Linked DNA regions of Homo sapiens: region 2 is linked to region 1. Evidence: fine-mapped expression QTL. A gene starts in region 1. The other region holds a variant in brackets. All regions are shown on one strand. Distances are from middle to middle.

Evidence for each region. PIP is the estimated chance that this variant, and not a neighbour inherited with it, causes the effect.
Region 2: its variant is the best candidate, but not a certain one, in a credible set for the expression of PDIA4 in whole blood (TOPMed, PIP 0.86).

The regions. Positions count from the first base shown.
Region 1 is chr7:149,026,653-149,029,549 of GRCh38, forward strand. PDIA4 (protein disulfide isomerase family A member 4) reads right to left here and starts at 1,853. Exons shown (of 10, transcript NM_004911.5): 1 at 1,669-1,853. The coding sequence starts at 1,756. RefSeq lists enhancers at 973-1,567, 1,568-2,161 and silencers at 1,486-1,535, 1,626-1,695, 1,766-2,345.
Region 2 is chr7:149,004,727-149,007,623 of GRCh38, forward strand. It overlaps PDIA4 (protein disulfide isomerase family A member 4), which reads right to left. Exons shown (of 10, transcript NM_004911.5): 8 at 1,171-1,327; 9 at 415-648. Among named protein-coding and RNA genes, the nearest start is that of GHET1, 19 kb to the left of the region's middle. The variant T/C (reference allele first, on the strand shown) is at 1,674.

The sequences.
Region 1 (2,897 bases):
GCCAGGCGTGTTGGCAAGCACCTACAGTCCCAGCTCCTCGGGAGGCTGAGGCAGGAGGATCCCATGAGCCCAGGAGTTTGAGGCTTAAGTAAGCCATGATCAGGACAGTGCACTCAAGCCTGGGCAACAATGCGTAACCTTATCTAGGAAAAAAAAAAAAAAAAACGGAGCTAGAAGTCCCAGGAGGCCTGCCCTTGGCCATGATGACCCCTGGGATTCCTAGGCTCACCCTAGGAGCAACTGCTTCCCAGGGACTCTTCTGTGTTAAAGACCTCTGACCGGAAGGATAAACTTGCTGGTCCTAACAGCTCCTAAAGCCACTCTCCCAGGCCTCTCAAGAATCCCCCCAAAAACAGAATCACTGGATCAAAACCAAGACAGTGCTATATGCTTTTCCGCTATGTTCCAAAAAGCATCTTCCACCCACACTGGTCCTCAACTTTCACTGTGCCTCCCGAAGTTAATTCTATGTCTCAAGGGAAAACTGACTTAAAACGCAGATTCCGGGGCCCACCCCTGCATTCTGCTTCAGTGTATTTTGGGTATCTGTATTTAAATAAACACTATTTAAACAAACATGATTTGGGTAAAGGTCTCAAGACACAATTTGTAAGCAGTCCCGCTATCGGATTCCTTTCGGCAGGTGTTTTTCTCGCCGAGTGTGGGTTTTTACTTCCTTTTCTATTTGGGCAAAGACTCTTTTTGAATCAGTGACCCACGCAGAAGTTACTCAATCTGTTTGAAAGAGTATAAAGTTCACGATTTCCCTACACACTAACATTATCAAAGAGTGTATATTTATATTAGAACAAACTCAGAAGGTTAAAAAGCTAGTGATTAAAAGTAAGGGCAGAGAGGAAGAAGGTAAAGACCAGTACCTGGATGCCTTATTCTCTAGGAATAACAACTTTTCCTTAATTAGCACTTCCTAATCTTCAGAGTTCTTATGTCTGCAGCTAGCTCACTTCGAAGAAAAATGCAGGGACCATGAAGTAGTTGTTACTATTCCTACTGGAGTACGCGCTTCATGGGCAGGGACCACACTCACAATCTTTTCCTCCCAGAACCCAGTACAGGGACTGGCACACAGTAAATGCTAAATGCAGAAGGAATGGTATCTCTAGTTTCTCAAAGGTGCAAACCAAGCCATCCCTTTCTCCAGAATCTATGGATTAATCATTTCCAAATCTACAGACCACATTTTGAAAAGGAATGCTTGCTGTTCCAAAGAACTCGCACTTGTTTCTTCACGCCCTCGCCCCTTCTCTCCAGTGGCTCTCCCTCTCCCTTCCCACTGCCTGGGCGCGTTCGCCTGGAGTTAGCCTGGACCTGACGAAAATCTGTAAATTAAGGCGAAGGACCCAGCTGCAAAAAAGGCGCTCTGCAGCCCTCTCCCAGCCTCGGGTGACAGGGGTCTTCCAGGGCGTCGGAGCCCAAGAGACCCCGGCCACCTTCCTCTCCCGGGAACCCCAAATCGATCCTGCCACTGCCACAGCCACCGCCCCCGCCCCTTCAACTCCGCCAAGTTTACCCCGGGCTCGGCGCCCATCACTAGTTCTGGAGCTGACCGCGCGGAAGCCCGCCCGCCGGGGTCGCAGGGCCCAGGCCCCCGCACAGCTCTGCAGCCCCCGCAAGCACAGCCCGACCCGCGGCGCGCTTGCCGCTCACCCTCGTCCGGGCCCTCGGCACCCGCCACGGCCAGCAGCTGCACCAGCCCCAAGAGCAGCAGGAGCAGGAAGGCTTTCCGGGGCCTCATGGTAGCGGGGGCGGAGCGCGGCCTCCTAGCGTCGGCGGCCGCTGAGCGCACCGAGAACTCGGGGTCTGGCCGACAGCCCGTCGCTCCTTAGCGACGCGGGGGAGCCGGAAAAACCCACGGAAGTCGTCCCCGGCGATTGGCAGGGGGCGGAGGAAGTCGCGGGCCGGCCAATCCCAGACTGACGCCGGCACGGACCGCGCGCGCCTCGGCCGCGACGAGTCGGCTCCGCCGCCCTAGGCCCTCCCTACTCCTGCGCGCGGCCCTCGGCTGCGCGTTTAAAACTCCGAGCCCTAACGTGAGGTGCCCCCTTCTGATTGGCTGCGCCACAACCACCAATCAGCGGCTGCCACTCGGTTTGCCGGGAGCGCACAGGCCAAGAGGGAGAGCGGGGGAGAACAAAGGCGGCGGGCCGGGCACGGGGAGTGCGGGACCTGGCTACGCCTCGGGGCGCTATTGGCAATCGGTGCCGGGGGCGGGGCAGGAGAGGCGGAGCCTGGGAAATGTGGAGCGGGGCGGGGCTCGGCTCAGCATCCTGCGGCCGAACTTGGCAGTAAGAACACGTGTCGGTACCGGAGCGGTGGGGAGCAGTGGCGAGCAGGGCGGTCCTCGCAACCCGCCGGGGCTCTGGGAAGCTGGAGACCAACGCGGGCGGAGGAGCACGAGCCTGTTTGTTGCTAGAAAGGGGCTCCAAGTCCGCTGCATGTTCGTGGCCTTCTTAATTTCTTTTTCTGCTCGAGCAAATAAAAGTTTCATTTCTCTCCGGAGTATTGAGCTAGAGAGCGGGGAAGAGCATGCAGTAAAGTGAATCCAGACTAGAATCTGGGGAAGCCTCTCTCCAAGGTTGCATCTCGGAGAAACAAGCCATCAGATTCTTGTCTAAACTTTGCCTCGTCTTATTTAGTTTTCTAGTGATTTTCTGCAAAAGGAAATACCAGATAGGCAATCTAGTGGTTTACATAGATCTGAATAAAAGCTTGAGGTTTTCCCTCTTGACCACTTTGGAGAAGAAAACTAGGTTAAGATGACGATTTTTGTATGTCAGAAAAGAAGCCTGTAATGTGCATTAAGTTTGAGACTTTTTTTTAACACCTGGGAGTTTGAGAAGGCAAATAGGGAAAAGAAAAAAAATAGAAACTCAAGT
Region 2 (2,897 bases), 22 kb before region 1:
TGTCTGGGCTCCATCTTCAGATGCCCCCTCTGCACACCCCGGCCCTAGTCTGGAATTTTAGCACATCAGCGCTGGAAATGTGCTAAGGCCGCTGAGTGATGCTAGGTAAGCCCTGAGATGGACTCCGAATCTTGCTTTTGCTTTCAAAGTAAACACTGGGAGAACTGCCAAGAAGAAAATAGTAACACTTGCAAATCCTTCTTCTAAGCTATTCTGGTGCCTTGGAGTTTGGGGTCACACCCGACATTTCTCTGGACGAGAAGTCAGAGTCCCTCGGGGGTGAGAGAGGACTGCTGGCTGACTTAAGGGGGTGTCGTGCCCGTGGCCAGAGCACCAGACGCCCCTGGCCTGTCTGGATTCCGCACGAGGAGCACAGCAGCTGATGGGAGACCCCAGCCCCAGCCACGGGCTCACCTTTTTTGAAAGCAGTGACAAACTCGCGGAGGGTGTCAGAGTCAAACTCCTCTGGCTCCATGGCGAACTTCTTCCCACTCTCGTCCAGGATGGCGGCATTGACATCCTCCCCACTCTCGCTGAGCCCCAGGTCCTTCACCTCCCCAGCATAGTCCTCTTCGTCCGCAATGGCAAAGGTGTACTCAGGGAAGTCCTTGGCCACCTCTAGGACTTTGCTCCGCCAAAACTGAGTTGCTGAAAGGGACCAAGGGCCATAAGCCAGGCGGCCACACAGAGCAAGTCCCAGCTCAGACTCTGAGGTCAGGCTTCAGGTCCTGTCGCTAATATTCTGACAATGCTCAAACCCTGGATTTACCTCAATTGGAGGGAAACATGTTTCTGGAAAAGCCCCACTTGTCACGGGGGCCACAGCTGCAAGCCCAACAGGCCCTTAAGACCTGTGCCCAGGTGGCACGGCCACGCCTGCCTGGGGCCAGGGCTGGTCTAGTCCCAGCTCTGCAGCCTCTGAACTCCTCCAAGTCTCAGCTACGTCAACTCTAAGAGGGTTCTGCACCTGAATCTAAGCTCCCATCCTGCTAAAAAGGGAAGCCATCAATTAAAAAATATACCTGAGCCACCAACGTGCAAGGGCCCCAGGCTGGGATTTCTGAGTGAGCCATGTACATACAGCCACACCTCCCCTCAACACTCCACCTTGCCTGAAAGAACGAGTCCCCCCACCCCCCACCCCCGCAGGTCTTGGTGGGGGTCCCTCACCAGCTCTGTAATCAAAGCTGAAGTCCACACTGTAGTAGACGACCACCAGGGGGCGCCTGGTGTAGCGCTTAGCATCGTTTGACACCTTGCGGTGGCCAACCAGGGGCAGGGCGTACTTCAGCACGAAGTCCTTGATGGCCGAGTCCTGGGTGGAGCCCTGCTTCAAAGAGGGAACAGGTGAGGGGGCCCACCATCTCCCCACCATTGTTCTTGAGTACAATGTTTGAGGGACTTTGGGGGAGTGGCGACTTTGAAGGGGATCAGTCTTAGGAGGCAAAACACCCCAGGGCTCGACCCCACTCAAGCACAGCCCAGTCATTCCCTACCGTCTTTTGGGGCTCCTTTCCCTCCAGTGAACCGTAGGTGGCTTCTTGGGAAAAGGCAAACACCTTGGCCCTTTCCTTGGGGGTGTAGGCTCACTAACCCCACAAAGAGACCACTCAAGGTAGGCCTGGCTCTTGGCAGACAGGAAGGGTTATCACGGGCTGGGCTGTGTGGAACTT[T/C]CCACCTTCAGCTTGTGCGGTCTTCACGCAGGAGGTCCTGAGGGCTCACACTTCACAACGACTGGAGTCCCTCACAGACATCGCCCTCCAGGGGTGGGCAGAGCAAGGTCAGCCACCTGCCCAAGGCTGCGCAGCCAGCAAGTGGTGGGTGGGCCTGTGAGCCCAAGGGTTTCCGTGGGGATGGGATACTCAGGGAGGGGTCCTTGTGTGGCACTGAAGGACAAGAGGGCCCCGCTGGTGAGAAGGGAGCAGAAGGCACTCAGGGAGGCAGCAGAGACTGAGGCAGGGCACGAGGCACAAACAGGATCTGGCGTGACAGCACTGGAGGGTGGGATGTGCTGAAAAGGTGGGTAAGGAGGGCCTGGGAGGCCATGCTAAGGCACAGATAATCCAACTATCTCCCAGGTGGCAGGAGGCCGTGGAGTCTTTAACCATGACATGGCGCTGCGTGCACTTCACTCAGCAGGGAAACGCCAGAAGAACTGGGAGCAGCAGCAATGTGCCCAACAGACAAGACTGCATAGATCTTGAAGCGTCTACTGAAAGCTACAGACCCCTTTCCTGGAATATGCACTCACACACAGAGCTGTGTCCGATTCTCGGGATCAATGGCCCCCCAAGCTCATCAGGACCCCTCTTTGGGCCCAGGATCTTATCTCTGGATGGAAGGAAGTGAAGCTGGGGGGAGGGGTCGCAGCAGCCACTATGAGTCCAGGGAAGAGGAGAGTTGCCCTGAGCTTCAAGTTGGCAGAGAAACAGATGGGATGGACACACAGACCTTGAGAAAGAGGGACAGGACTAAAAACTGAGGAAGGAAACAGAGGACATGGGGACCAGAAAGATTCAGGGTGGTTCTCTCCAAGGTACTGCCATGTTCTGGTGCAGGCCCCCGGGATTCCTGTCCTGTCACACCCCCTGCTCCAGGTCCCATGAGAGCCCACAGCCCAAACAGCCAGGGTCCTGACACTATGGGCCAGTAGGACCTGGAAAGGCCCCTTCACCCCAATCTCAGCTCTGCTTCCCACCAGGAGCTGTGGGGTCTGGGGTGGGGGGTAGAGCTCACTTCTCTGCAGCCCAATCTCTGTTAAACCAAAGCTTCAAACTCGACATCTAAGATCCTTCCAAATCTGAGATCTACTCACCGAAGTGCAGGGCCCCTTCTAAAGCACTCAGAAGGCTGAACTGGCCCCAGGTTCCCCTTGGGCTGGGAACTCCCACTGCCCC